5 separate regions of the Homo sapiens genome follow, and regions 2, 3, 4 and 5 are each linked to region 1. Evidence: fine-mapped expression QTL. A gene starts in region 1. Each other region holds a variant in brackets. All regions are shown on one strand. Distances are between the middles of the regions. Region 1 holds the start of PITPNM2 (phosphatidylinositol transfer protein membrane associated 2). Region 2 overlaps CLIP1 (CAP-Gly domain containing linker protein 1). Region 3 overlaps PITPNM2 (phosphatidylinositol transfer protein membrane associated 2). Region 4 overlaps PITPNM2 (phosphatidylinositol transfer protein membrane associated 2). Region 5 overlaps PITPNM2 (phosphatidylinositol transfer protein membrane associated 2).

The links. PIP is the estimated chance that this variant, and not a neighbour inherited with it, causes the effect.
Region 2: its variant is the best candidate, but not a certain one, in a credible set for the expression of PITPNM2 in fibroblasts (GTEx, PIP 0.77).
Region 3: its variant is the best candidate, but not a certain one, in a credible set for the expression of PITPNM2 in monocytes (TOPMed, PIP 0.68).
Region 4: its variant is the best candidate, but not a certain one, in a credible set for the expression of PITPNM2 in whole blood (TOPMed, PIP 0.77).
Region 5: its variant is the best candidate, but not a certain one, in a credible set for the expression of PITPNM2 in whole blood (INTERVAL, PIP 0.65).

Annotation. Positions count from the first base shown.
Region 1 is chr12:123,148,036-123,154,286 of GRCh38, forward strand. It overlaps PITPNM2 (phosphatidylinositol transfer protein membrane associated 2), which reads right to left and starts at 3,055. Exons shown (of 26, transcript NM_020845.3): 1 at 2,718-3,055. It overlaps MPHOSPH9 (M-phase phosphoprotein 9), which reads right to left. Exons shown (of 24, transcript NM_022782.4): 24 at 6,180-6,251. RefSeq lists silencers at 2,609-2,698, 2,799-2,938, 2,959-3,218, 3,239-3,438.
Region 2 is chr12:122,300,486-122,305,485 of GRCh38, forward strand. All of the region lies in intron 20 of CLIP1 (CAP-Gly domain containing linker protein 1), which reads right to left. Among named protein-coding and RNA genes, the nearest start is that of VPS33A, 36 kb to the left of the region's middle. The variant G/A (reference allele first, on the strand shown) is at 3,048.
Region 3 is chr12:123,104,295-123,110,545 of GRCh38, forward strand. It overlaps PITPNM2 (phosphatidylinositol transfer protein membrane associated 2), which reads right to left. Exons shown (of 26, transcript NM_020845.3): 2 at 6,091-6,194. Among named protein-coding and RNA genes, the nearest start is that of PITPNM2-AS1, 26 kb to the left of the region's middle. RefSeq lists enhancers at 1-662, 663-1,405, 2,841-3,050, 2,889-3,629. The variant C/T (reference allele first, on the strand shown) is at 2,940.
Region 4 is chr12:123,069,333-123,075,583 of GRCh38, forward strand. The region is part of intron 2 of PITPNM2 (phosphatidylinositol transfer protein membrane associated 2); the gene reads right to left. Among named protein-coding and RNA genes, the nearest start is that of PITPNM2-AS1, 8.9 kb to the right of the region's middle. RefSeq lists an enhancer at 987-1,859. The variant T/G (reference allele first, on the strand shown) is at 2,696.
Region 5 is chr12:123,116,868-123,123,118 of GRCh38, forward strand. The region is part of intron 1 of PITPNM2 (phosphatidylinositol transfer protein membrane associated 2); the gene reads right to left. Among named protein-coding and RNA genes, the nearest start is that of PITPNM2, 31 kb to the right of the region's middle. RefSeq lists enhancers at 1,559-2,372, 2,373-3,186. The variant C/T (reference allele first, on the strand shown) is at 2,639.

The DNA.
Region 1 (6,251 bases):
AAGAAGCCTTTAGAAAGGGGAAAATGCCTCAGATTATGGTTTTAGAGTAAACCAGATGAGGATTTGCCATGGCTCTATTTGATAACATTCCAGGGTACCAGTAAAAGCTTAATAAACATCAACCAAATGACCTACAGAGAAGCTGTGCAAAGACCACTTAGCCGCATCTGTGTTTGGAGGCAGGGAGTCCTGTTAAGCAGCTTTCAGGGTGACTATCTGCAAAGGGATTGATCTCATCTAAGCGAAGTTGAGAACTGGCGTACAATGGCTCATTTTGGATTGACTCTGCGGTCATAAGCAGTGGCTCCTCCTGCCCATGGCCAAAGACACTGGAGCAATACCACTACGCTTACATTAAAGAGCACACGGCCCTGGCATTTTTTCCAAAAACAGCAAGGCAGTGATCTCAAAGTACCAGACGTTTCCTCTGCTAATCTCTACAGATAACTGCACATCCTCTATGACTGGTCTTCTCGAAGACCAAGTTGGAAAGACTTTAACTAGATGGGCTGGTTAGGAGAGCATCTATCTGCTTGGTGTTAAAACAGGCCTCTAGACACGGAGGAAGGCAACGGGTCCCCATAACAGAGAATGTATAAGCAATCAACTCTGGACAAGAAGGGCTCTCAGTGGTGATCTAGGCCAACCCTCTCACTATTTTCCTAAGTACCTTACTGTGCAGCAAAGCATTGGGGATGCAGAGAAACGTGATACAGCACTAACCGCCCAGGAGCTCACAGTCTAGTGGGGGGCACGTGTAAACAGATAAGGGCCATTCTGTGTGGCAAGCAAATCAGACTAGGGTGGTTCGAAAATCAGAAGAGGGACCAATTCCACCTGCGAAGGCCAAGACTGGGTCTCAACCAGTGAAGAGTTGAAGGCACCTGGGGAGAGGGAGGGCATGGGAGCACCATGCCTTTGAAAGCCTCTAGGTAGCCTGAGAGGACTGCAGCTTAGGGTATGAATGAAATGGTAGGAGAGGAGGCAGAAAAGGTAGACAGGACCCAGATCCCAGGGGGCCTTAGATACGCAGAGGAATTCTTTCAGATTCCATAAGGTGCAACCAAAACCAAGAGAAACCAAGTGACTTAGTTAAGCTCCTGTAGCAAGTTATGGGAAAAGCCAGGCCTGGAACCCCAGTCTCTCGACTCCCGCAGTCCACTTCTCTCCCCTGCTGCCTCCCACGCCTGAGCAGCTGGGGAAGACCAGGAGAGAGAATGGCCCATTCAACACTCACTACCCAGAGAATCTGGAGTCTTTGCCTGGCCATCTTCAGGGCAGAGGATGTACTGTCCTGTTCACTTGGCAAGCCACTCCTTACAAGAAAAACAGCCCTTCCTAACTCATTGTGTTTCTCTCTGCAGTGGGAGAGGGCTGGAAGTCCATTCCAACCACAGAATACAGTCCCTTCATGGAAGGAAAGTAATTTAACAGCAACAGTCCAGGAATCAGACAAGCTATGGTCCCAGAGGCAAGCGTTGGAGGGGCCTTCTGCTCCACGGAGACACTGACTCCACGCAGGGTACTGACCAGGGCAGGAGACCAGAGATGAATCAACTCCAGCCCGGGAGCTCACCGTCCAGCAGGGGAGATAAGGCAGATGGAAAAGTAACTATAAAATAAGGCAGACGGTGATAAGAGTTACACAGGAGATACAGATAGCAGGCAGTGGGAGTTCAGAGCAGAGAGGAGTCTGGGGGATGGATGTTAGGGGAGATTCAGATGAAGGGGAGCACTTACTGCCTTCCCTCCAGAAGTGGGGGGTCTATCCTAGCAGCTCTGGTCACTCCCAGGTGGAGGCCGGGGAGAGAGCTGGTTGTGGACAAAGACAGATGTTCCAGTGAGGTCTCCTTTGAAGAATCCCGACTCTGGGTGGGGGAGGCAGGTAGGCCGGGGTGTTTGGAGAGGCACCCAGCCCACACTTCAGTGGGAGGGAGAGGAGTGCAGGATGTCTCTGCAGGAGCAAGTCGGTGGAAAGGGGACAAGCCTGGAGGACTTGCCTTGAAATGACATTTGCACCGCGCGCACTATGTTCACCTGGAGTGGCCGTTTGGGATTTCTTGCGGGGAGGCAGTGCACACTGGGGCGGGGGACACTGAACTTTCCCTCTCCCCAAGGCCCCCCGATCAGCCCTGCCACGGATAAGAAAGGATTCGGGGTGGGAAGAAGACAGAGCCGGCACCCCATTACCACACGAAGGGGGCACTGAGGATGGAGACGGGCCACACCCCAACCCTGGGCCCCCGACAAGCAGAGGCCACGGCCCGGGCCTGGGGACGTTCAGCTGGAGGCGGGAAGCAGAGAAGGCGGGCCGGGGGCTCACCTCCGCTTCCTCCCGATAGCCCCTTCCTCGCCCTGGCACCGGCACTGCCCACGCCTGCCCCCCGACCGCTATGACACTTGTCCCTGGCGGGGGTCCCCCACGCGGTCGCGACCGACGGAAATTCGGAAATCAGCGTTTCGGGCACGGATCCAGGGCCGGCGACTCACTGAGGCCAGGCTCGGGCGGTCTCCCGAGCGGGGCTCCCGTACGCCACACCCTCCTCCCTGCCCGGGTCTCCGCTCCCTCCTCCAGCCCCCGGCGGGCTGGAGGCTCGGCGGGCGGGCGGGCCGGGGCCTCTCTGGGAGCCGCCGCCCAGATCCCCAGGTCCCCGGCCAGCGCCCGGCACTGCGGGACTCACCGCGGGCCTGCGGAGCGGCCGCCCGGACGCACTCACCCCGCTCGGCGCGGCCGCGGGCTCTGTCCTCTTCGGGGCCCCGGCTGGGCCGCCGCCACCTCACGCCGCCTCACGGGGAGCGCCCGCCCCGCGGCCCCGGCCCGGCCGGCTGCGCCCCGCGCGCCCCCGCCGCCTGCTGGCCCCGGGCGAGCGGCAGAGCCCCGGCGGGCATTGCTCCCGAGCGTCGCAGGCGGGCGGCGGCGGCGCACGTGCTGGCGGGCGGCTCTCGCTGAGGCGGCCGCGAGCTGAGAAGGAAGCGCCGGGCGGGCGGCCGGGGCCGGCTGGACAGCTCTACGCCGCGGCGCCGCGGTGCCCCGCGCACCCCAGCGGCCGCTGCTGCCCGCGCGCGCCGGGCCGGGCTCGCATTCCCTCAGTGGCGGCGGCGCCTCCTCAGGCCGCGCGGGGGAGCGGCGGCGGCGGCGGCGGGGGCGCGTCCCTGCGGAGTCTCGGCCCGGCCCCGCCGCCTCCGCCGGAAGAAACCTCTCCGACTCGGGCAGCCCGCCTGGTTCCTCAGACCTGCCGCGGCGACCCCGCTCCTCCCCGGCTCGCCCGTGTCCTCAGGGCCCGGGACTGGACTCGGGGGCGGCGGCGCGGATCCCCGCCCCGGGCTCCTCGCCCACCGTCCGCAGCAGCCGAGCGCACTCGGGGGCGGGAACCGGCCGACTTGCGGCCACTGTGACTCTTAAAACAGCCTCATTTTAAAAAATGAAGTTTCTTAGGAGCGAAATGGTAAACCAGGGAGGGCAGAGCGCAGCGGGCAGCTCACCGAAGCCCAGCCCCGGGCGCGGTGCTCGCCACACGGTGGGTCCGCGCTCTCCCCTCAGGACGCCCGGGCCGCGGCCCAGGGAACGGCAGAGCCGGGAGCGCAGCCGTCCCGGTCCCCACCTCAGGGAGTAGCTGGAAGAGGATCACGAACAGTTTAATCCGGATGATCTGGCACGACAGGGCTCTCCAATGGGAAGAGCCCCCGGTGGGGGAGCGCCTGGTGACATTCCTTAAAAACATGAGGTGTTTGTTAGGTTGAGCCAGGGTGGACTTGTTTGGCAAAATCTGAAGTCATGGAACTAAAGAGAGCACACCTAAAACTTAGTGATGTGTGACCCATCCCTACTTGTCACCTTATAAGGCTGAGGAGACGGCGGTGCTCCCCTGGAGGAGAGAGGACAAGCTAAAATTAAGGCGGCCTAGATGACTCCAGATGAAGCCGGGGAGGCCGAGCCCCTGACAGCTGCTCACCTCCTGGGGTCACGGCAGAACCCAACTGAACGGGCCAGGAAGGCCATCGTTCCCGACTCGCCTCCAGGTGCCCCTGACCATGACCACGCAGAGGAGGACCAAGGCGTACCACCATCACCTAGAACGCTTCAGCTCCTTCCCTCCACCAAGAGGTGCCCTAGGATCCATCCAGAAAGATCTGCGGAGCCCACAGAGTCCCAACGGGAACTGTGCTCCTGGATGGACGCCCCTTAACCCATAACTCAAGGACTTCTCTATGCCTGGGACTTAAAATCACCAACAACCCGCTCCTGCAGCCAGCTAGCAGAAATAAACACACAAAGGCCACACGCCAGTTCACAGCCACAAGTATTTATTGAGTGCCTGTAGTGCAAGAAAGAGAGATGGTCCCTGCTCCCGCGGAGCTTACAGCTTCACGACTCCAGCATCTGGCTAGATTCAGAAACAACTGCAGCAAGCACTTGTCTACCCACCAGCAGCACTGTAAAAAGCACATTTCTCACATTATCGGTCACTGTTACAGTGAAATTGTTAGATGTAAAAATTATCCTTGAAATCTGTAGTCATAGAGATGACATGGTACATAATGTCCAGCAAATGCACATTTATGGCTTGATTCCTCACATATCTGAGGGGTCTATGGAAATAAAGTACAAATCAGGCAGAAAAGACTTAGTAACACAGTTCCTAAGAATACTGGGGTAGTAGTTTATTATCAAACTACCATAGAGCTCTTGGCAGGGCAGGAAATTATTTCCAGCAAAATTTGTGCAATATAGTGGATTTAATCAAACCTGCAACTGTCAACCATACATGGTCCCTCATGACAGGTAAATATAATCTACCTGTCTGAATGGTAAAAGGCTACAGGTGTGCATTTATTTTTTAAAGCTTCTTAAAGACTCATAGCACAAGTGGCACATTGAAATCTAGTGAAAACTTGAGATAATCTAAAAATTAAAGTGACAAAAGTGTCTAATTTTACTACATATGTAGGTGCAGAGTTCAGATTTCAAGTAGCGTCCAGCAAAGCACGTGGCTTTTCTGGGCGAGAAGGGGATAGCTTTTGGTTGGCTATCACAGACTCCACCTACATCTCCTAACACCCACTGGCAGGCACTTCCTGTGCATGGTTCTGCCCACAAGCTGTCACCTTTAGATGAAACATTTGAAGGGGCAATTATTTGGAGGATACTGGCAATAATTTTTAGAAAAACAACCTATATTTATACCAAATAACCCCCAAGTCACCAATTAAGACCAAAGTGCTTTCTGAACTTACACGTGACAGGTTATCAAATTTGTTAAATTTTTGGTGGCTAAAAAACCAAACACACCAGAGGGATGCTTAATTTAAACTCCAAAAAAGCTCATTTTTTTGCAAAGCGTGAAGAGAACATCTTAGACCACCTAACAAATGTCAGTCCAAGGCAGTTTTTAGGTCAACTGCTTCGGACATAATCTACTTTTTTATTTCAGAAAGTATGCTACCTCAAGGCTGGGCGCAGTGGCTCACGCCTGTAATCCCAACACTATGGGAGGCCAAGGCAGGCAGATCATTTGGGGTCAGAAGTTCAAGACCAGGATGGCCAACATGGTGAGAACCCCGTCTCTACCGAAAATACAAAAATTAACCAGGCGTGGTATGCACCTGTAATCCCACCTACACGGGAGGCTGAGGCAGGAGAATAGCTTGAACCCAGGAGACAGGTTGCAGTGAGCCAGTATCACACCACTGCACTCCAGCCTGGGCAACAGAACTAGAGACTCCATCTCAAAAAAAAAAAAAAAAAAAAAAAAGGATGCTACCTCAAAAACCTACTTAACTCAATGAATCTGAAATATAATATTTCTTGAGCACTTACTAAGCACCAGGCACTTTACAAAATCTCCCTTAATGAAAGGAGTTTTCTTATTTCATCTTATAGCTGAGAAAGGCAGGCCTGTGCCAGGATGTGACCCAGGTCTCTCTGGCTCCAAGTCTCTCCTTTCTTGTCCCCTGAGCCCAGCTCTGCACAACCCTAGCACGGCCACTTTAGCTACATCTGTTGCTTCAGTTGGAAAAGTCCTTCAGTTGCAAAGACCATTTCCATACCTCAGGAGTAGCTCCTGCAAACAGAGGCTTAGCAAGGGAAAGGAAGGGGGCAGATCCAGGCATCAGGGGAGAGTTCACTTTCTATTTGCATTTTAAAAGGCACTTCCCAGAGGTGGCAGATTTGCTTAGGGTTTTTTTTTTTTTTTTCTTTTTAAACTATTAATACCTGCAGCAAAGCCCCAAGCCAACAACAAAAATAGTTT
Region 2 (5,000 bases), 850 kb before region 1:
TTCATACATTTGTTTTGTAAAATTTAAGTAAAATATGTTCTTAAAATGTAAGAGGTTTATTTCATTTTCTTAGGTATAAATTAATTCTTTTTTTGTTTTGAGACGGTCTCGCTCTGTCACCCAGGCTGGAGTGCAGTGGCGCGATCTCAGCTCACTGCAACCTCCGCCTCCTGGGTTCAAGTGATTTTCCTGCCTCAGCCTCCTGAGTAGCCGCCCGTATTGAACATCTCTGTGATATAAAAGATGAAGAAGTTTGTACACTTCCACTTTCTTTCAGTCCTACCCCTCAAATTTTGTTAGTCACATTCTCTCTATATTTTTTTCTACTTTTTTTCCTTTTTCTTTTTACCTTGCAAATGTTTTACACTTGCATTCACCAAATGATCAAAATTAACATCACCAATAATGGGACAAAGGAACATCACATGCCTCCTGGCAGGACACAGTATCACTTATATAGTCTTCCTACTAAAAATGCATAACCTGAATATCATCAGGAAGAAGCATCAGACAAACTCAAAATAAGAGAGTTTATGCAGCTTAACTAACTGGCCCTGTTCTCATAAAAAATGTCAATGTCATGAAAGACAAAAACAGAGGAATCGTTCCAGATTAAAGATGACTAAAGAGACACGACAACTCAGTGAAAAGAATGCATGATCTTGGACTGAATCCTGAATTAAAAAAACAATGCTGTAAAGGACGTTACTGGGACAACTGCCTGAACAGGAATAGGGTCTGTACGTTAGGTAATACTGTTGTATCGAGGTTAAACTCCCTGAATTTCATGACTGCACTGTTTATATAAAAATAGTAGAATATATGAGCATTATTTGTTCTATTCTTACAACTTTTCACAAAGTTTGAAACAATTTCCAAATGAAATATTAAAAACTTAGTCTGGGTCGGGCGCGGCGGCTCATGCCTATAATCCCAGTACTTTGGGAGGCCGAGGCGAGTCCTGACCTTCAGGAGGTCAGGATTTTGAGACAAGCCTGGCCAATATGGCGAAACCCCATCTCTACTAAAAATACAAAAATTAGCTGGGCGTGGTAGCGCATGCCTATATTTCCAGGTACTCAGGAGGCTGAGGCAGGAGAATCACTTGAACCCGGGAGGCGGAGGTTGCAGTGAGCCGAGACTGCAGCACTGCACTCCAGCCTGGGCGACAGAATCAGACTCTGTCTCAAAATAACAAAGAACCCCACAACATTAGTATGTGCCCATAAACCCCACAGCTGTGTGCTTAGCTCTCTGTTTACTTGGATTTAACGCTCATGACCAGTCCTTGTGTCCGCTTCTCTTTTGCTAAGGCCTTTATTTTGATTCATGTCTTGCTTGGCTCAAATTTATCATCAAGTGGCTCCTTTTCAGAAGGACTCACAAACACCACAGCTTCTAAGTCCTTTCATGTTTGGAAACATGTGCCTGCTGTCTCACCTGAATAGTCATTGTCTGGAGACGATGCTCTTGGCCATATTTCCTGTCCCTCAGAACAGTGGATGTGGTGCAGCAGAGTTTTTTTTGCATTGAATGTATCTGCAGTTGGGTTGGTTTTTTTAAGTTTTTATAAGAAATTTGATTTTTCCGCCTGGGCACTTAGAATTATTATTTTTTATTATTATTATTATTTTGAGACAGTTTCACTCTTGTTGCCCAGGCTGAAGTGTAATGGCGCTATCTCAGCTCACCGCAACCTCTGCCTCCTGGGTTCAGGCGATTCTCCTGCCTCAGCCTCCCAAGTAGCAGGGATTACAGGCATGCGCCACCATGCCTGGCTATTTTTTTTCTTTTTTAGTAGAGATGGAGTTTCTCCATGTTGGTGAGGCTGGTCTTGAACTCCTGACCTCAGGTGATTTGCCTGCCTCGGCCTCCCAGTGCTGGGATTACAGGCATGAACCACCATGCCCACCATAGAATTATTTCTGTATTGTTGAATTTCAGTAATCACCAGGGTATTTTTTTTGGGGTGTCTATTATTTTGGACCAATTTTTCCCAATGGGTCCCCCTACTGGGTTTCCATACAACCCACTCTCTTTTCTTTTTGCGGATTCAGTTCTTCCTTTACTTGGGGAAATTTCCTTATCGTATCTCCTAATACTTACACACACGCACACACACATATATTTGAGACAGAATCTTGCTCTGTCCCCCAGGCTGGTATGCAGTGGTGTGGTCTCGGCTCACTGCAACCTCCACCTCCTGGGTTCAAGCTATTCTCCCATGTCAGTATCCAAGTAACTGGGATTACAGGCAGGCACCACCACGCCTGGCTAATTTTTGTATTTTTAGTAGAGACAGGGTTTCGCCATGTTAGCCAGGCTGGTTTCAAACTCCTGACCTCAAGTGATCTGCCCACCTCGGCCTCACACAGTCCTAGAATTACAGGCTTGAGCCACCGTGCCCAGCCTAAATATAGATACATTTTTGAGACAGGGTCTTGCTATGTTGCCCAGGCTGGTCTTGAACTCCTAAGCTCAAACAGTCTCCTGGCTTGGCCTCCCAAATTGCTGGGATTACAGGCATGAGCCACTGCATCTGGCCCTTTCCTTTATATTTTAAGAAATGCTTATAAGGCTGCTTCCTGTTTATGATTTATTTAGTAGTCTTGATCTGGTGTGGTTTGGTCTTCAATTTGTTTCCTTAATTCTTCAATCTCCCTGTTAAACTTGTGTCATTTTATCATCTTCTCTTTGAACAGTTGTTTTGTTTTATTCAAATAACTTGAGTTTTACATAACACAAAGCACTATTTTCCCTGGGTAACAGCTTCTCTTGGCCTGAATTCCTGTCTCTCTCTGGCTCTTGATGTTCCGTTCTTTCTCTTTTCCCTCTTAGGGTGCAGAATGTGTACACTTCATCTTATTCTCGATGGCTCTACCTAGACCTTCCCTTGGCTCACATATACCGTGAGTTTCCCCCAACACCCTTCCTACCTTATCTGAGGCCTTTATCTTTAACCCCACGTTACAGCTAAAAGTTAAGCACTGTAATTGACACATTTCTGTAGCCAGAGGTTTCTGGATAGAGTCAAGGTTGGGATAGTT[G/A]AGGCTACACATAGACTCCGTTGGTGATCTCTTTCCTGAGATTTTTCTTCAGTGTTCTATGCACATCACTCACTCTACCTGAACACAGGTAATCTCATTCCCACAGGAGAACATCCTCAGCCTTGGGGCACGCATCCCCAGTCAGCTCTTTCCACAGTGCTCCTACTGCTTCTGCTACCTTCCCTTCCTAGAGACTGGAACACAGCCTCTCCTGTGATTGGAGGTGGTTATGTGATACGATCATAGAAATGTGAACTTTCTTCCCCAAATTAGAAGACAGAGCCATGTGAGAAGCCCTTTGCATTTCCCTGCCTTGTCCTCCCCCTGATTCCATCCAGAAAGCTCTGCGATGCTTGAGGTACAATAGCCAACCGGGGATCAGACGGACAAGAACTACACGCCTAGCAGAGCAGCAAGCAGGAAGGAAGGGCCAGCTCCGTGCAGACGTTCCTGAGGGGGTACCCGCCCGGACTGCCTACTGCGGACTTATTATCACTTGAGAAAAATACCCACAGTGCCCTGTGCCTGTCAGCTGCAGTTTGTTGGCTGGACTAGCTACAGAAAATGACCACTGGCAGTTTTTCCCACCGTTGGTAAAATCCTGCGGTGGTGCAAAGGGGCATTGAGCCTCAGAAATTTTTCCTTTACTTTTCCCAGGCTGTCTACTCACTTCTTCAGTCTAATTTTTTCCAAACTAGACTGGGCACAGGGATGGAGAGAATTCAAGTACAAATTCTCAGGATTTTGCTGTTCACCGTCCTTTCCACTTACCACTGGGGACAAAGTGTCAGAGTCAAACCACAATTTTGTTTCCTTTCTTGGTTGCCAATTTACTTTTTATTTTTTGAGACGGAGTCTTGCTCTGTCGCCCAGGCTGGAGTCCAGTGGTACGATCTCGACTAACTGCAACCTCTGCCTCCCGGGTTCAAGTGATTCTCCTGCCTCAGTCTCCCGAGTAGCCAGAATTACAGGCATGCACCACCATGCCCGGCTAATTTTTGTATTTGTTATTAGAGATGGGGTTTCACCATGTTTCTCAGCTAGTCTCGAACTCCTGACCTCAGGTGATCTGTCTGCCTCAGCCTCCTAAAGGGCTGGGATTACAGGCGTGAGCCTCCACGTCCAGCCTTGGGTGCCAATTTAAAAGTTTATAGCATGAAGTTGACTGGCTTTGTTGGCTTCTGCTGGACACATTTTTTAATACAGAAAAACTGTGTTCATAGCATTGGGTACTGAAGGGAGACAGAGTCTGTGATCCAGCTTCAATCAGCCCTAGTTGCCCAGAAGTCCCCTGAGCCCAGATTAAAATTATGATGGCTGATAACCACCATTTTTCCAAACTAATACACAATAAGCTAAAAATAGCTTTCCCTTTCTAAGCATTCATGTCTGGGAATTCAGGCTCATTTAAATGGCAGGTGACTATTCATGATCAATTTAGATGCTAACCCCAATTTTTTTGTATAATACATCTGCTATAACCTCTGTCAGGAAAAACTGTTCATGAAATACAGTTATTGAGTCATTTAATCCCTGTCCGGTTTCCATAAGCAAACTGTAACCTCATTCTACAAATAGCCAGGGGGAGAATCAGCTCTGTTCCCATAGTGATAGCTCACTGTATTTGCTATCTTTACAAGGTGGAACACATGTGAGGTTTGGAAATGATAAATCAGACATATCAAAAGTGACTACCTAAGGTGACTATTTCTATAGAAGAATCAACATTATTTTTAGAATTCCCTATGAAAAGAAAATAGGGGTAGACTATACCTATAGTCCCAGCTACTGGGGAGCCTGAGGCTGAAGGATCCCTTGAGCCCAGGAGGTTGAGGCTGCAGTGAGCTATGATAGTGCCACTGCTCTCCAGCCCAGGCTACAAAGTGAGACTCTGTCTCTTAAAAAAGAAACGAATGCTCTGTATAGTTTCCATTAATCTTAAACTATATGACC
Region 3 (6,251 bases), 44 kb before region 1:
CTCCCTGTCAGGCCTCTGAGCCCGAGCCAAGCCATCGCATCCCCTGTGACTTGCACCTATACGCCCAGACGGCCTGAAGTAACTGAAGAATCACAAAAGAAGTGAATATGCCCTGCCCCGCCTTAACTGATGACATTCCACCACAAAAGAAGTATAAATGGCCGGTCCTTGCCTTAACTGATGACATTCCACCACAAAAGAAGTGAAAATGGCCGGTCCTTGCCTTAAGTGATGACATTACCTTGTGAAAGTCCTTTTCCTGGCTCATCCTGGCTCAAAAAGCTCCCCCACTGAGCACCTTGCGACCCCCACTCCTGCCCGCCAGAGAACAAACCCCCTTTGACTGTAATTTTCCTTTACCTACCCAAATCTTATAAAACAGCCCCACCCCTATCTCCCTTCGCTGACTCTCTTTTCTGATTCAGCCCGCCTGCACCCAGGTGATTAAAAGCTTTATTGCTCACACAAAGCCTGTTTGGTGGTCTCTTCACACGGACACACATGAAACTCCCTATTGCAATTGTTTCCCCACAATCACCCAGCTTCCTCCCTTCCTCCCATCCAGCCTGCTCTCATCACCATAGCCAGAAACCATCCTTTTAAAGCACAATTCGGATCCTGACCCTCTACTGCTCAAACATTTCCGAAGCTTCAGGTCACTCAGAGTCAGGGCCAAAGTCCTGATACAGCCTGCAAAGCCCTGATCTAACGGGGCCCTCAATATTCTCTGACCTCCTCCCCTGCTTCTCTTCCCCTCATTCACTCACTCCAGTTTCCTGAACATCCTGGACAAGCTCCTGCCTCAGGGCCTTTCTCCCTGAGCTACCATCCTGGCTCACTCCTCACCTCCTTCAGGTCTTCGCCTAAATGTCCCCAACTTGGGAGGCCTTCCTTTCCCCTGCTTCTGCAACTCTGATCACCATCTGATGTGCTTACAGGTTTTACTGACTATTTTCTATCGAGTGTCTACCCCCACTAGAATACAAGCCCCAGGAGGGCCAGAAGTTTTTAACATTTTATCACGTCTTTATGCCCAGCTCCTAGAATAGTAGGTACTCACTAAATACGTGTGGAATGAATCGCTGCTGATCCACTGAGGGGTCAATCGTGCTGCTGAAATGAAGAGTCAAGCTATTCAACCCCCTGGCTTGAATGGCGCCATCTCAGGAACCCCTCAGAGAATTCCAAGCTCTGTACACTGTCTCCAGGAACAAAAGCGATTGTCCCAGGCAGGGTTCACATCTCAGGAAGTGTGTGAAGAAACAAAGAAAGGAAGTGACACAGGGGACACAGATCCAGAAAGCTCCTGCTGACGACACCTGGTTACCGGGAGGCATGAGGGCTCAGCGCATACGGGAATGCCTCCAGGCACCTGGAGTGCTGAGCCGTCATGCCTCCAGCTGCCTCCCTGCAGGTGGGATGAGGTCATCAATGTGAGTGCACTGGATACCCACCATGGAGAAGTACTGGAAATGAACCGAAGACAGGGGCTCTGTACTAGAGCCAAGGGAAGGCAGAAACGAGAGGAAGAAGGAAAAGAAAGGTGGTGAGAAAGAGTTTCCCATGCTGAGAACCTGCAGGCAGAGATGTAGAGAAACCCCCAGCCCCAGACCACCACTGACCAAGACAGCAGGGCACCCGGCCTCACATGCCCTCAGGTAGGCCAGGCCAGCTTCCTTCCTGGCCCTGCCTGTCCTGAAGAGCACAAGTGAAACAGACCCATGCCCATCCCCCTGCAAGCATGGTATGCCTGCGCAAACCTCAACAAGTGACCAAAAGCATCGCCCAGAAACAATCGTCTTGCCACAGGCCCCCTGCTTCTTCTCTTCACCCCAGATAGCCTGCTCTCAACACGGCAGCCAGAAGACATCCTTCTGAAGCACAATTCGACACAAGCCAGAGGAATGCAGGCTTCTGCCACCTTGTTGAAAGTAAAATACATTCTGGGCCAGGTGTGGTGGTGTGCACCTGTAGTCCCAGCTACTCAGGAGGCTGAGGTGGGAGGACTGCTTAAGCCCAGGAATTCAAGGCTGCAGTGAGCCATGATCACACCACTGCACTCCAGCCTGGGTGGCAGAGCAAGACTCCATCTCTAAAATAAGTAAATAATTCCTTTAAAAAAAAAAACAGGAAGAAAAGAAAGTACATTCTCAGGAAGACATGCTGCATCAGAGCAAACAAGGCAAATGCAGGGGTCAGTCCCCAGAGCTCCGGGGAACAGGAAGAAGAGGAGACTGAGAAGAGCCAGCAATTTCTGGCTAAAGCCCTGCGTACTGAGCAGCGTCAGGTGTGTGTCAAAGAACCATATCAATAAACAAAATGTAGATGGGAGCAGTCAGGAGGGGCACAGGTGACAGAACTGGCCAGGGCATGACATGGGTCATCAGATTGTGCCCAGATCTCTACCAAGCTCTGTGGGGACAGCAAAGGAGCTGAGGAGGAGCTCTCTGTGGACTTCAGGGCAGCATCTTTGCTCCAGGGCATGAGGGCACTCAGCCCTCTACTTCCTCTCCATAACCTCCCCATGCTCTGGGCTCTCTGGGCAGCCTTCTAACATGCGAGACTTATCACAGACCTAAACCTCACAGGGACGGACAGGCCTGCATTCCCATGTGGGACTAGGGCTGCCTGAGAGGAGGGACTAGGAAGCAAGGCCCTCGCTGCAGGTAGGGCTCTGCTGCTGCTACGGATGGAGATAAGTCCCTTCTTCACCTGGGATGGGACTTCATCCAAGGGGCTGGAGGTGGGGATGGGGGTACAGCATGGGGAGGTGGGGACGTGCCCTGGAAAGTCTGTGTCATTGCTGCTGTGGTCTGAGGCCCTGCCCATGTCATGAGCTCTCTTTCTCCTCAGGAGACAGTGACCTTTTGAGGCCTGTCACAGAGACAATGGCAGGAAGTGCCCCTCCCTGCCTGAGCCACGGGGAGTCCGGAAGGAAG[C/T]CACTGCCTGGGCCCAGGACCCTCCCCGCTGAGCTCTTGCCCAAGGGACACTGAAGCTCATGGCAATGCCAGAAGCTCTGCTCACCAATGCCGAATGGCAAACATCTTCAACTGTGAGGGCTAAGGGCAAATATTCTCCTTGGCTGGGACCCTCCTCTTTAAGGCAGACCCCTACTGTGAAAGACAGCCAGGCAGTAGGAGACACAACCCCAGCTACCCCACCCACCACCTGCCACCCCCACCTTCTGGAAGGAAGGGCTCTGGATTCCTCCACAGCAAGGAGCTTTTCTAAAAATAAACCCTGGTCCTTGAGCCCTTTCCTTCCTCAGTCCCTTGTGGAGGAGAGAGGAGAAGGAAAGATCTCGTTCTTAGCGAACCCCAGGGAGTGTGGCCTCCCTCCACCCCATGACTCTCGCTACCAGGGCCCGGTGGTCACTATGCCACAAACTCCCAAGCAGGGTGCAGAGGCATGGAGGGGGCAACCCTAATCATCCTCACATGGGGCCTGCCATTTTCTAGGGGAGGGTTTTGGGAAAAGCAGGTGGTACCAGCTCTCTAGTCCAGGATCTGGGGGGAAAGGATGGCACCCAAAGGCAAGTCTCCCACATTACAAGGTTCCCAGGTCAACAGCAGACACAGACACTTACTGAAATATTTCAGGGAAAATGATGCCAAGAATTCTGAGGTCCAAGCAGTATGCCGTGACAGCACAGAGGGAGGAAGGAGAGGCTAATGCGGACCCAGGCCTTGCAAAGAAATTTAGAGGAAAGGAGCTGTTTGAAATGGGCTTGGAAGGTGAAACAGGAACCTGACAGGTAGAGGTGGGAAGAGGGAATTTCAGGATGCTGGAACTGCATAAGCAAAGCGCAGAGAATGTACCAGCATATAAACTAGACGCGGGCAGGGATGCCTGTCTGTTTTGTTCACAGTGGCGTCTCTGGCAACTGGAATGGTCCCTGGTGCAAACTAAGTAACAATAAATACTTTATGGACAAATGAGTGGAGCAGAACAATTCCTGAAGACATTTTAGGTCTAAGTGAAGACCTTCGGATGAGGTGAGCTGCAAGGCCATGGTCTCTGCAAAGCCACTGCACTCTGGAATGCAGTTGTTAAGAAGGAATAGAACCTCCTTCCTGTAAGAAAGGAGACAGGAGACCAAGGCTGTGTTGAAGCAGCGTCCCTCAGAGCAATGTCAGTGCTCAGGCCATGCAGGGCAGAAGAGCTCTCACCGGGCCCTGCCTCGACTTGGCAGCCAAGACCTTTGGCAACAGGACAACCACGAGGCCCCAACCCCGCAGAACCCGAGTGACCCCTGGAGAAGCTGCAAGTCAGGGCTGAGTGTTACTATGTGCCCTCCCCTACATCCACTCCCAGTAGCTGGGACACCTTGGAAAGTGAATTAAAACAAAACAGAAAAACAAAAAATACAACATAGCACTCTCTCTTCTTAGCACTTGGAGGCCTTTTCACAGCAACTGAAAAGAATGAGCAATTAGAGAAGATAACAGTCCACGGTGCCAGCCTGGAACTACGGAGCCACAGAGGCAACTTAAGAGGCCCCATCACAACGTGCCCTATCTTCCCAGCAAGGATGAGGGCACCCGGAGAAGGGAAGGGACTTACCCGAGATCAGACAGCAAGTAACAGTTGAGCCTGGGCTGAACCAAGGGCCCTGTGAGTCACAGGCCAAATTTGAAAAACCATGCCATGTGCTTCCAGGTCTAGACTCGGGGTCCAATCCCAATCCCACCACTGACTAGCTGTGCAACCTGGAGCTGATATCTGCCATCTCTGAGCCTCGGCTTCCTGTGTAAAAAGGGACCCTAACAGGCACTGCTCATGGTTACTGTGGGACTTAGCCCCATGCAGCAGGGGCTGGGTACATTAAACCTACCCCCACCAGCATCCTCACCTCAGCTTTGCTAGCTTCCCTTGATGGAACATCCATCCTCCGTGCCTCCAAAGCTGAAACTAGCCAATGAGTGAACAGGAGAAGGGTTCATCAACATTTAGGAAAAAAAGAAGGAAAAATCACTTTACCTCCTGTTCCACCCAACAAAGGCCTTGGCATGGAAAATGGGGCCAAGGCCAGGGATTGTGCCTGAGACAAAGAAATACGAAATGGAAAGAAGCTTGGGAGGCCAGGGGCTCCTGCTGCCAGCTGGGGGTGGGAGGGGAGAGACTGCTACTCCCTGGGCCATTCAATCTCTAGACCTGGCACTCCCTGAGACTCAAGACAGAGGCTCAGGCCCACCCTCCACTCAGCCTTGGCTTCTCACTGTACATCCAGAGGGATGGTGCATTAAAAACCACACTCATGCTTGTTTCTGGGCCACTGACCATGACTTGCGGGCAGCTGAGCAAGGCAGCAGCCCAGCCTCTGCTCTCTGCCAAAGCCAGCGAGTAGCCAGAGCCTGAGCTTCCCAGCCAAGGCACAGAAGAAGCATAACTCCTGCCTGTCCTCTTCCATGTACTAAGGGTAGAGCAGGCCAGGCTAAGCCTCAAGAGCAAACAGAAAAGAGCCACTCTGGGGTGCTCTATAAACAGGAGAATAGCAGCCGTTGGGGCCTCAAAGGCTGACCCAAGCAGTTTTTATCCTATTTGGAATCGAAAGCTACCAGAGGCAGAACATCGGTCTTTCGTATTTAGTGAAAAGAAGTCAATATTTGCAAAAGCGTAATCAATAAATACAATCTACCCCACATTAATCAGATAAAGTCAGGTTTATAGTGTCTTTTTAAGAGACGGGGTCTCACTGTGTTACTCAGGCTGGAGTGAAGTAGTGCGACCATGGCTTACTGCAGCCTCGAACTCCTGGGCTCAAGTGATCGTCCTACATCAGCCTCCCCAGTAGCTGGGACTATAGGCATGTGGCACCTCACCCAGTTAATTTTTTTTTTCAGAGATATGCAGTCTCACTATGTTGCCGAGGCTGTCTTGAAATCCTGGCCTCCAGTGATCCTCCTGCCTTAGCCTCCCAAAGTGCTGGGATTACAGGTGTGAGCCACTGCGCCCAACAATAGTCCGGTTTTTAGGGGAAAAGGGAAACAGCAATAAAGTCTCCGTACCCTCAAACTCCAAAGGCCAGGGTGGCCTGCAGGGCCTCAGCTCTGGGAAGTAGGGTGCTACTGCACAGGTGGACGGCCTTACCTGTGGGTCTGAGAAGGCTCCACTGATGTCCCTGTCAAAGGAGGAGAAATGGGTCCCTAGGCTCACAGAAGGTTGTTGAGGACCAGGACACACGTGCCAGCATCCTGCAGGGAGAAGCACAATGGGAGAGGAGGTGAGACACCTGGACTCTGATCACTCCA
Region 4 (6,251 bases), 79 kb before region 1:
GAACCTGCGTTTTAAACACATCTCCTGAGGTTATCAGGAAGCCCTCCAGAGAATGAAACACGGGGCCTGGTACAATCTCCCCTGCAGACAGATGGAGAGACTGGAGACAGGACAGGGATTGCTGCAGGCCACGCAGCAAAGAAAAGGCCAGAGTCCACACCTCTCCTGGGCTTGCTGGGGTCCCTATAGGCCTGGAATCAGATGGCCAGAGTCCTCTGTGCTCAAAGAGCCCTTCCCCCAGGTGAAGCTTCCTCGCCTTCCAGGCCCCCTGGAAGCCTTCCCAAGCCCCGTGGGCCGAGTCAGCACCCCGGGCACCTTGCGCCCACTTTCCTTTTGGCATTTATCAGACTGCACTGTAGCCACATGTTTGCCTTGGAGCTCAGGGCCCGAGCCTTGTTCAAAGTTGTGTCCCCAGGGCTCGGCCACAGCAGTTGCTTAATAAAGGTAGGTACCCAGCAAATATTTGTTAGATAAAAGATTTTAATTCCAAACTCTGTCCCAGAACAGTTGTCTGACCTTGGGCAGGTGACCCAACTTCCAGGCCCCTTCCTGGAACAGATTCTGGTCATCTGCCCTGACCGTTTCCCAAGGTGACAGTGAAAAGCCAGATGCAATGCACTCAGGAAGCTGCCCAGCAGTGGGGCTCTGCACCCGGTGCTCATATGACAAGCAGGGGCTCACTGAGTGACTGGCAAGGAGCTAAGAGTCCCCAGGTTGGCAAGACCCAGCCAGGAGAGTCTGCTGATAAGATACAGCCCAGGGACAGACGAGTCCAGAGGTTCTACTAGCCTTGAGCCTGGGGCAAGAGGTCGCCATGCCCTGGCCCCTAGCCCAGCTCTCTTCACTGCTCTTGGGGCTTAAATCATGCCCTAAGCCCATGTCCACTGTGGGGAGCAGGGACTGGGCCCTGAAAGCTATCAGACTGCAAACAGAAGATCACATCAAGTGGTGGTAACAAGGGCCTGGGAGCTGAAGCAGGTCCCTGGCCTGTGTGGGCCTTAGTGTCCCAGCTATAGTGAAGGGGTTTGAGCTGGACCGTATCCAAGGGCCCCAGGACCGTGTGGGCAATGGCACCGCTGTCACAGCTGCTGTCATCAGCACCCTCAGGGCCTCATGGCAGGCATTCATGTTGGTGTGGGCATCAGGGAAGGTCTGCTCCTCTGGACAGAGGCCTCCTAGAACACCCAGGCCGGGCAGCCCAGAGGAACATGACACACGCTGAGTCTGGGAAGCAGGCGATGTCCCCCCTCCCAGCTCCACTGGCTGCCCTGAGGAGCAGAGCTGCCCATGGGATGGGCTCCCTATGAGACAGGATGCTCCTCGGTGTGCCACTTCCTCAAGCCAGGCAGTAACAGCTTACACAGGCCAGGCCTCTTCCAAGGAGGAGCTGGGGAGCTTAGGCCTGCCCCCCATGCCTTCTAAATAACCCCACAGGACCAACCGGTTCTTCAGACCAGGCTAGTTGTGGGGGCAGCCCTAAGGGCCCCACATCAACATGCCCCTTCGCGCATCTGCCCAACTCAGAGAATGCCGTGACGTGTGACTCATGTTGGGGCCACATGGAAGGGATGTCACCGAGTCACCAGGTCAGCCCTTCCTAGCTGCAAACAGGGGGATGCAGGGAAGGAGGCCAGCAGAGAGAGGGAGTTGAACTCCGTTCTGCCTCCAGGAGCCTATCCAGCTGGCCCAGCTCAGTGTGATTCCAAGGAACTCAGGAAAGCTGCCCTGGGTCTGCCTGGCTCAGTGTCCCCATCTAGCAGGTCCGACCTGGGATCCTCGAGTGTCCACTGTTGCTTGGGAGGGAGCAACAGGCTGAACTCTTGAGTAGGGTGGGCAGAGGGCTGCAGGCAGCAGAGGGGGACAGGCATGCCGGCTCTTCTCTAAGTTGAAGCTGCCAGCTGGTGTCTCAAGCATAACTTCCAGCCCCTGCTCTTTCTGGGTCCAGGGGAGGCCCCTCCTTGGCACTGCAGCCATATCCAAGTTTCAGCCATGAAATATGGAGCTGCTCATCTTTTCCCTGTGCTCCCCATAAGCCACACTGCTGACCACGTGTTGTGCTTCCTAGGGTGGAGGACAGCCAGAGAGAGACCCGCAGGCTGGATAACTCTGCTGCCCACCTTCCCCTGAGGGCAAGCTCAGTCCAGGGAGTGGCTCTGGGTTCAGGTGGCTGGCAGGGTACAAACGGCTCGATGATCACACCTCCTGACAGAAAGCTCTGCTGGCTAAGACACCGCACTGGCTCTCCAAACATTTGGGAGCATGAAAAGCAGCGGTTGGCCTGGCCCTGATCCTAGGACAGCCTCTGGTACAGAGCAATCTGACACTGGAGGAGAGCCCCACAAGACGATCATCCGCTTCACACGCTCCTGCGACGAGGCAGGCAAGAAGCACAGAATCTTGAATTCTCACACAACGCCCATGGGGGGACCATCACTCCCATTCCACACAATAGGAAACTGAGGTGCAATGGGATTAAGCAGCTTCTGTGGGTCACACAGCCAGGACTCAAAACCCGAGCCTATATGACTACCAAGTTTTGCTCTTCTACCAGCTTAGGAAGGTCCTAGAGCAGCCCAGTCCCGATCCTTTCCATCTCAGGAATCTAGAGTCCTGGAAAGGGGACTTCAGCCATGCAATTAGCACAGGCCCAGCAGGCAAATGAAGTCAGGCGGAAGGAGTGTTTTAAATTTACCCA[T/G]TCCCCATTCTCTGTCTGCACAGGCTTGACAAAGCCTGTTCACAGCCACAGGCTGTGATAATGGTGTGCCCACGCCTAGAAAGCTGTGAAGTGCTTTACAAGGGCACAGGGTGACAGGAAAAGTGAGGACGCTGGCATGAAACAAAGTGCTGGGCACACACCATCCATTTGTCCTTCCCATTCTCCTGAGGGCATCCATCGCTAACTCTGCTGTGCACACCAGGAAACTGAGGCTCCGAGAGGTCAAAGGAATTCTCCAAGATCTTATAATCAGGCTGATGGTAGACAGGGGACAGGGACAAGGTCTTCTAACTTGCATTCTCCCCTGCCCTCCAGCCCCTGAGCATAGTCTTGCTTAGAGAAAGGTGATGGGGACTTGATGAGGAAAATTCCTCTCACTATGGCAACAAGGTGGGGAAAGTGAGGCACAAAGTAGACAGCAAGTTAAGGCTGGCAATTGTCCCTCTCCTGTCTTCTCCCAAGACACACCTACCATTTGCAGAGTGACAGAGCATGTTCAAGTCCCTCATTCATTCATTCCCACCAAACTTGGCTTTGTCAGGGAGACAGTCAGGTCTCAGAGAGATCCACTGGGGCAGAGCTGGGACCCCAGACTCTCAGACTCCAGGCCTAGTGCTCCCTGTCAACAGCTGCTCAAGGTTTTGAGGTTAAACATTCATCTGAAAGGGGCTTTCAGGATGCCGAAGGCAGCAGAGAGGGCCACAAAGCTGACCTACTGGGTAAACCTGCAACTGAACGTTGGACCAAATAAAACCAGCACCCAGTCAGGAAACCATCATAAGATACAACTTTCCCTCACCTGGAGCTCTGGAAGAAGAGGCTGTGGCCACCAGGCAAGGGCCCTGGGGAAGTCATCCAAGCCAGAATCCGGAGCCCCAACAGGGATCAGGGAAGGAGCCTGACTTCCGAGGCCTGGTGTTTAGGGAGAGCCCTGCCTCTTGAGAGTTTGGCTGGTGTGATTCCATCGCCTGCCCCCCTCCCCAGAGCTCCCTATCCCCTTCAGGGATGGCCAGCTGTCTCCAGCTTCCATGAGGATGGAGCTTCCGTTTTATTCACTTGGCTTCTCATGGGTCGTTAAGGTACAAACCCTCTGCTATTTGTTACATCGGTATACTTTCAACCTCTTAGGAAGAGCTCTTAAATGGATGAGCCTTTTTTCTTCCATATTTCATTTTCATATAGTCTCTAAGCTACGGAAAAATTGCAAAACTAACATAAGAACTCCCCTCTACACTACCCAAAAGCAGCAATTGCTTCCCTTTTGTTCCATCTGCCTTGCATCTGTGTCCCTCCTGCTCTCTGTGTGCATCTCTGGGCATAAACACTCCTGACCCATTGAAGAGTAAGTTATGGGAATGCCTTGTCTCTAACAACAGCCTACCATTCGCCACCGCCTACACAGGTGGTTCATCTCCTAGCACATCACACCTGTTCTCTGTGGTGAGACACATGAAGTAGACAGTGTTATCTCTATGTTACAGATGAAGAAACTGAGGCACATATCTCCTCATGTGCAGTGCTGCTCCTACTACCCTGAGCCACCAATGCTGAAATCCTCAGCCTAAAACACATAGACCCCACGATGCAGACTGTCTTTCTGATGATACATGATGTAGCAATTTTTAAAAGAAAGGGAGCCACTCTGCTCCTATAGCAGAATAACAGTGGATCAGGATCAGAGTGACCCGGATTTTCCACAGTGTAGAGTGGCCTCGTACTCTGGGTGGAAGCCCTGGGGCAAGTGAGTGGTAGGGCAGATGCAGGGGGCTCTCCTCCAGCTCATCCCCAGGCTGCCTGCTCCTTCCTCTCTCTAATTCCTTCCTTTTCTCTTCTCAGACAACTAAGGTGGGTGGCCGTGGAGTGCAGGGAGAGTGAGCACCCCCCAGCTCTCCTCACCCAACCTCCTTGGCCTCCTCCCATACTGAGCACCCGCTGAAGGACAAGGGCTGAATATAGTCTTCAGGCCAAGAGCCCAGCAGCCATGCCCGGTGCAGAGCAGGTTGCATGTATAACTAATGAGTGAGGCAGAGGGAGGGAGGGAGCGAAGGAGTGAAAGAGCCAAGGATCCAAGTTCTGGTTCTGCCTTCACAGGCAGGCTACTCAACCCTCCGAGACTCGGTCTACTTATCTGTAAAATGGGAGCAACGCCAAGTACTTCTAGGGTGGCTGCAAACTGTTAAATCAGATGAGACTTGGGAAAGTGTCTGTGAAGTGGATTTAAGATCCCAGTGCAGACATAGGTTAAGGAGTTTGCTGAGCCCTGCTCTGGGAATTGAAGCAGAAAATGGGAGAAGCAGAATGCAAAGTTAAAGATGCCCAAATACAAATGCCACACTCACATTCACTGCACACACTCTCACATACCCCATAGGCACACACAGGCACATATACATGCCACACACATGCACACACACCTCACACACACAACATACCACACATGCACATATAAATACACACATGTCCATATGCACACAACACACACTCACATATACACCCCCCACATGAGCACACCACACACGCATATGCAAACACATCACACACCTCACATAGACACACACATGCCTACACATACACCCACCCACCCACACACACACACAAACACACACATATGGCCTCACAGCTCAGTACACCCTAAGCTTATCAGTCTCTGATGAATCCCTTCCCTTTGGGCTGGCGGCCCTCAGAAGCCCTGGACAGAAAGCCAGCACCCAGAGGCTCCCCTGCAGACACAAACATGCCAATCCCTGTAATACACCAGACCATGCAACAGAGCACCAGGGAGGAAAAGAGGGAACAGAGGCAGCTCTTTCCAGAAGTGGACAGGGACAGTTGTCTCACTCAGGTGAGACACTGAGCTGTAAAGCAATGCATAAAAAGGACAGCTGTCTGATCTTAACAATCCTGGGAACCGTTTACATGGGATCATGTTAGCATGAGAAGAATGCCAAATGGTAGGTACACCCCTGCTAGCAGGCAGGGAAAACATATTTGTGTGTGCGTGCATGTGGGTGTGAGCTTGTGAGTTGCATGTGCATGCCTGCATGGCATGTGCACATGTATTTGTGTGAGTGTGCATGTGGGGAGGCTGTGTGTGTGTATCTGCAAGCATATGTGCACTTGTGGGCAAAGGCGTGTATGTGCATGTATAAGTACGTGTGTGTTCAGGAAACTCACAAGAGAGACTGGGGGAGAGTTTAATGTTCATGAGCTTCTCTCTTCCTGCAGTTTAAGTCATCATGCAACACCACCAACAGACTTTTTCAAAGCTAGGCACGGGCTGGGCGGGGGCCAAGGCAGATGTTCTGAGTCCCAGAATCTCTGACCCGCATCAGAGCGGCCTGTCCTGCCCAGCACAGCCTGGGTGGTGGATTCCACCATGCTGCAAGCCAGGCCAGGGAAAAATAAATCAGACTTTCTCCTGGGAGCTTCACTGGCTTCGTGGGGTCTGTCTGAACCACAGGGCTTCCCACCACGCCCTTCCCTGAATCCCAGCGCTCCTGTCAAATTAAAGAAAGAACCACTCACCGCCTGAAAG
Region 5 (6,251 bases), 31 kb before region 1:
GCAGCCAGCCACCTTGTCAATGGGTCCCCCACCCCAAGTAGTCAAGTTGTTCCAGCTGACACCAGTGGCACAGGGATGAGCTAACCTTACCACTGGGCCCTGCCCAAATTGCCACACTGTGAGCAAATAAATAAAATGGCATTTTGCATCACTATGTTTGGACGTACTCTGTTAAGCAGCAATAGGTAACTGATGGTGGCCAAGCTCTCTAGCGGGTTTGCAGGAAGTTCTACTTCCATCATAAGACTCATGAAGACCTTTTGTATCCTCACATATGAGAGTTGCTGAGAGACGTTAGTGCTTAAATGAGTCTTAGGAAGAGAGTAGTCTTCCACTCCCAATATCCCAATGGAGTGAATGCTGAAATGAAGCCGGTGCTGAGTTTCAAACAGCGGTCGTGAGGCTGGGGAATTTCTCCAGTGATCCTACGGAGTAAGCTGGCCATCAGATGATCAACTCAAGCTGTCACTTAATTACACGACTCTCTATCTGTGCAGAGCAGGGGTTTGCACACTGTGGACAGAGATATGGATGGGATTCCCTGAGTGCAGTGAAGTGATCATTGGCATGGGATTGAGACCAGAGTTCTGGCTGCTGACTCTGGGTAAGTCAGCTCGGCTCACTGGGCCTCTGTTTCCCCATCTGTAGAGTGAGGAGGCTGGGCTTCATGACCTCTGAAAGGGTTCTCAGTTCAGCTCCAACATTCTACAATCCTATGATTTGGACAGAAGGGAATACTGACCTGTAATCCAAAGCCCTGCATCAAGTCCAATGACTTGCATCTAGGTTTGCAAGGCAGACAGAAGTGCTCACTGGGCTCCTCAGACGTGTGCCCCTGGAGCCCTGCTCTGCTCTCTGTGCCCTTCATGGATTTGTTCATTCATTGTTCAATATCTCACTATGACAGACTCTGGCATGGTCCAATTTCCTCTCCCTAAATCATATGTTTAGCCCCCTGGACTCTAGGTGAGGCTACGGGACTAGTTATATGAGTAGGGGAGGTCCACCACTTCAAAGCCTGGCCCCCAGAATGCCCCATGCAATCTCCTATGCTCCCTCTTTCTCTGCTTACCAGCCAGCTGACTGCACAGATTCACTGGAGAACTCCAGGGGAGCCCCAAGGGATGGGAGAGCCACAGTGTGAAAGGATCCTGGGTCCCCAATTCACCACATGGAGGCCACTCACAGAGCATGCAATTCAACTAAGACAAGAGTGGGGATAAGCCTTTATTGTGATAAGCCACTGAGACTAGAGAATTGTCTAGCAGTTAGCATTACTTAACTAATACATTCACCAAATTGATACTAATTGTCAGATATGTAGGAGATACACAGGAGAATTAGGCTGAGGTCTAATCTTAGCCTTCTTAGAACTACCAGTCTAGGTGACAGTTCAGGGAGATTGGATACAGACCAGTTCTGTACTCTGCGATCATGATGGGAACCTGCTCAAGCTCTATCCATACTGCCTGCTTCCAAAAACCTTACAACATAGGCTCACCACATTTTCCCACCAAACATGAGATGAGCAAAGAAAGAAAGCAACCAAACAGGAGGGAGAAAATCTCTATCAAGGCTCTAAATTGAGAACAATCTAAAAGCAAATGAGTAAAATCTTAGCTGTGTGCTTCCTGGTAGGCAAAGCAAAGAGGGAAATATGCTGGGTCACAAAGCTCTTCCCAATAGTGGAAAACATTAGTTCATGATGAGAAACAGACATTGTGCTTGGGAAGAGTTCTGAGGGGAATGTCCACGGGGCCAGTGTGTGAGGGAATTTGTGCCTGGGAGGAGGAAGCAAGAGGAAACCAAGCTAGCCTGGAAAGCTGTCAGCCTCCAGGGTGTACGGACAGCTTTGCAGCCCCGCCTGCGGCCTGACTGGCTCTTAACGGAGAGCTCCTCAGAGTAATTCTTCATCCTCGTTAATGTCAACACGGCAGCACCATGATAATGATGGAAAATATTTACATACCATACCACTGATGGGTTGTTTAGACCATCTGGCTACTGGACATGGTAAGTATTGTCGAACACATGGCCCTTCCGCAAATACTGTGCCTTAGTGCTGATGGAGGCCAGGCTGCAGGGACGTGAAACAGTGTCACTCGGCTGTGTCCGTGTGGCCTGTGTCCACTGTCAGCTTTAGTCACCTGCAGGTCAGGGGCAGAGATCTCCAGCTCCCACTCCCAGATGTATCTGGGCTCAGCGTTGATGACAATAGCCTAACTATTCCCTTTACCAAGGGCCTCTTCAGGACTCAAGTGATCCAACAAGACTTAACGCAGCAAGACAGCTCTGATTCTGTGGCCACCTGGGGGATTTCTCCAATGATCTCCTGGGACTGCTGAGAATGCTCAGAGGAAAATTCAGCACAGTTCATTTGTGTTTGAAGCAGCTTCTGCCTAAGCTTTGTCATGCTCGGGAGGTAGGGACAAGGATTAGGTAGCACAACTAAAGGCTGTGCTCTATCTAGAAGCATAGAGGATGGTGATTTTTTTTTTTTTTTTTTTTGAGACAGAGTCTTGCTCTGTCACCCAGGCTGGAGTGCAGTGGAACCATCTTGGCTCACTGCAAGCTCCGCCTCCCAGCTTCACAACATTCTCCTGCCTCAGCCTCCCAAATAGCTGGGACTACAGGCACC[C/T]GCCACCACGCCTGGCTAATTTTTTGTATTTTTTAGTAGAGACAGGGTTTCACCGTGTTGGCCAGGATGGTCTTGATCTCCTGACCTCGTGATCCGCCCGCCTCGGCCTCCCAAAGTGCTGGGATTACAGGCGTGAGCCACCGCGCCTGGCTGAGGATGTGATCTTAATCACACCTAAATGAAAATTTCTTCGTTCCATCCATGTGGCTCCATGAGTACTAATATCAGGCTGAATACAGAGGCTTTTTTTCTGGGTCAATGCTAAATATTTCTTCTTTTTCTTTTCTTTCTTTTTTTTTTTTTGAGTTTGGGGTGTTGAGTGGCTTGTTTTATTATTATTTTCTTAATTTTAGTAAGCAAGAAAAAGTTCTGTTGGGAGCCCGTTCAAAAGTAGCAATTTTCTTAATGGGAAGCATACGCTTGCCACCCACGTGAGGAGGCTGTGTCAGCTCAGCAACCATACTGCCCTGTGAGTATGGTGAAGTCGTGTTACCTACTTGACAACCAGTGAGTCAAAGGGAAACTCATCACAGGTGCCTGTATGGCCTGCCGGGGTTTTGCTGCATAGCCGACAAGGGCTTTCTGAGGGCACACCTGCAGCAAAGGCCTGGCTTTGGTTTTGTCAAATATGAACCCGCAGATTTAAGGTCACCTTATAACTAACACCCTCTAAGATTTAAAATGCCCCAACCAGAGCATTCAGGACCTGAGTTCACGGACTGGGTTCAAGAGCCAGTTTTGACTCCAACTGGCTGTGAGCTTCGACGGCCCCTCACCTCCTGGAATCTGTGTTTTGGCTGTGAAAGGAGGGGTAAGACAACAGGTGTCTAAGCAGCATTCTGGTCTAATAGTCACAGGTTGGCTGGGAGGCACTGGCCCAGGGCAGCAGCCTCCTTGTCAAGAGTGCCATAGGAGTTCCTTGGTCTTCTATAGGACTAGTGCCTTTCTCTCTGCAAGTAGAGTGATGACCACAGACCTCTCATATGGAGAGTGGATCATGGAAGAGTCAGAGCCCTCAGCCAGATGTGGCATAAAGCTAATTCACTGTCAGTCACACCCTGGCCAGTGAGAGTGAGCTCACATCCACATCCTCTAAAGGCACTGAGATGTAGTGGCACATGTTTCCTGAGAGTAATTACAGTCTGGGATGATGACCTTTGCTGGTACAACACCTAGCACCTTAGGGCAGGATGGCTGTGCAGAGGCCACACAATACCTCTGCAAAGCTCCTCCCTGCTGGTCAGACACCACAGCCCCAGCAGGGACAACCTCTCTGAGCACCTACTCTGAGCCACCATGTCATTCTAAACAAACATCTGCTCTGCTCACCTGCTCTTTTTGCAAAAGTTATCTGAGCCCCTGGGGAAAATGGAAAAGCATAACGAAGACCACACCCAGATCACTGGGTGCTTCACTTGAACCAGCCTCCAAAACATCCGGCAGCAGGCCAGAGACACACTTCTTGTTTAAACACAGAGAAATGAGACAGCCCCAGGTCTCCCAAGTTAGAGAATAGAATCTTCTCAGAACACACAGCTGCTGCAGGCCCAGCCCAGGCTCCTTCTCTGGGGAGCTGACTCTGGCTCCAGCCCTCAGAGGCCTCTCTGCTGACTCCCAAACCCCAGTGAGCAGGTCAGCGCCAGGCCTGGCCAAGCTCTCACCGGTTCAAGGAGAAATGAGAACATGGCTAATGGGCCAAGCTGTTCAAAGAGCTCCAGTTTGGTGGGGTATGGTGGCACACACCTGCGATCCCAACACTTTACGAGGCCGAGATAGAAGGATCTCTTGAACTCAGGAGTTTGAGGCTGCAGTAGGACATGATCATGCCCTCCAGCCTGGGCAACAGAACAAGACCGTGTGTCAAAACAAACAAACAAAAATCAAAAAGCTCCACTTAGTTTCTTTATTCTTAGATCTTTCCTACTTCTTAGTGTTCCTTTTGTTCATGAGATGATAGCTACAGTGAATTATACCTTTTTTTGTGTTTGTGGTTAAATACGCATAACATAACAATTACCATAATAACTTTTTTATTTTTATTTTATTTTATTTGTTTTTTGAGACAGGGTCTCACTCTGTCATCCAGGCTGGAGTGCAGGGGCATGATTACAGCTCATTGCAACCTTGAATTCCTGGCTCAAACAAACCTCCTGCCTCAGCCTCCTGAGTAGGTGGGACTACAGGCACGCACCACTACATCTGACTTTAACATAATTTTTTTTTAGTAGAGGAAAGGTCTATGTTGTCCAGGGTGGTCTCTAACTCCTGGCCTCAAGCAATCCTCCCGCCTCTGCCTCTTGAGTCCCTGAGATTACAGGCTTGGACTACCATGCCCAGCCCATGTCAACCTTTTGTTTGTTTGTTTTTGAAACAGGGTTTCGCTCTGTCACCCAGGCTGGAGTACAGTGGCATGATCTTGGCTCACTGCAACGTCTGCCTCCCAGGCTCAAGTGATCCTCCCACCTCAGCCTCACAAGTATTATAGTTGGGACTACAGGCACACACCGCCATGCCCATCTAACACGTCAACCATTTTTAAGTGCACAATCATCACTGCCATCTACCTCCAGAACTTCTTCATCTTCCCAAACTGAACTCTGTACCTATCAAATACTAACTCTCCATTCCTCCTGCCCCCAGCTCCCTGGGGAATCTCTTTAGAAATGATGTCAATTGGCCTGGTGCGGTGGCTCATGCCTGTAATCCCAGCACTTTAGGAGGCTAAGGCAGGCAGATCGTCTGAGGTCGGGAGTTCGAGACCAGCCTGGCCAACATGGTGAAACCCCGTCCCTACTAAAATACAAAAATTAGCCGGGCGTGGTGACACACGCCTGTAGTCCCAGCTACTCAGGAGGCTGAGGCAGGAGAATCGCTTGAACCTGGGAGGCGGAGGTTGCAGTGAGCCAAGATCGTGTCATTGCACTCCAACCTGGGTGACAGAACAAGGCTCCGTCTCCAAAAAAAAGAAGAAAGAAAGAAATGACGTCAACTTACAGATCTGGGAAATCCAAGTCGCAAGCCTGTTGATAGGCCTCCTGGTCACATCTGAGCTCCCCCAAAAACATAACCTCCCTGAAGGTTAGCTTCTGGTGTTTCTCAGATACTCGGTGGTAAACAAGCTGACAGAGAAGGGGCAAGGTAGCTGCTGCCCCCACCCTTTACCAGGAACATATCTTCCAGACCACAACCTGACTACAGGAATCCAAAAACCCAAGAGCCCCTCAGTCGTGTGCAAGCTGGCAGCTAATGGGAATGAACAGTCTTAACTGGCTATGCCAGGAACTACCCTACAGCCTGCCCTTTGCGGTAGAAAAGGCTCTCACACAGAAGGAGTTTTCTCCAGATTTTTATTTTACTTAAAAGCTCTTCCTTGCCTGGGGTTTTGAGGTTGAAAACCACTGCCTCGCACTCACACATTGTAAGTGGGAGTGTAAATTGGTACTACCTTTATGGAGAGCAATTTAGCAATTGCTAACAAAAATAAAAGAAAAACACTCCTTGACCCAGCAATTCTACTTCTGGAAATTTATTCTACAGACATGAGAGTATATTTGCATGAAAACCTACTTATTGAGATGCCTGCTACAGCACTGTTTGCTTCCCATCTTCTGCT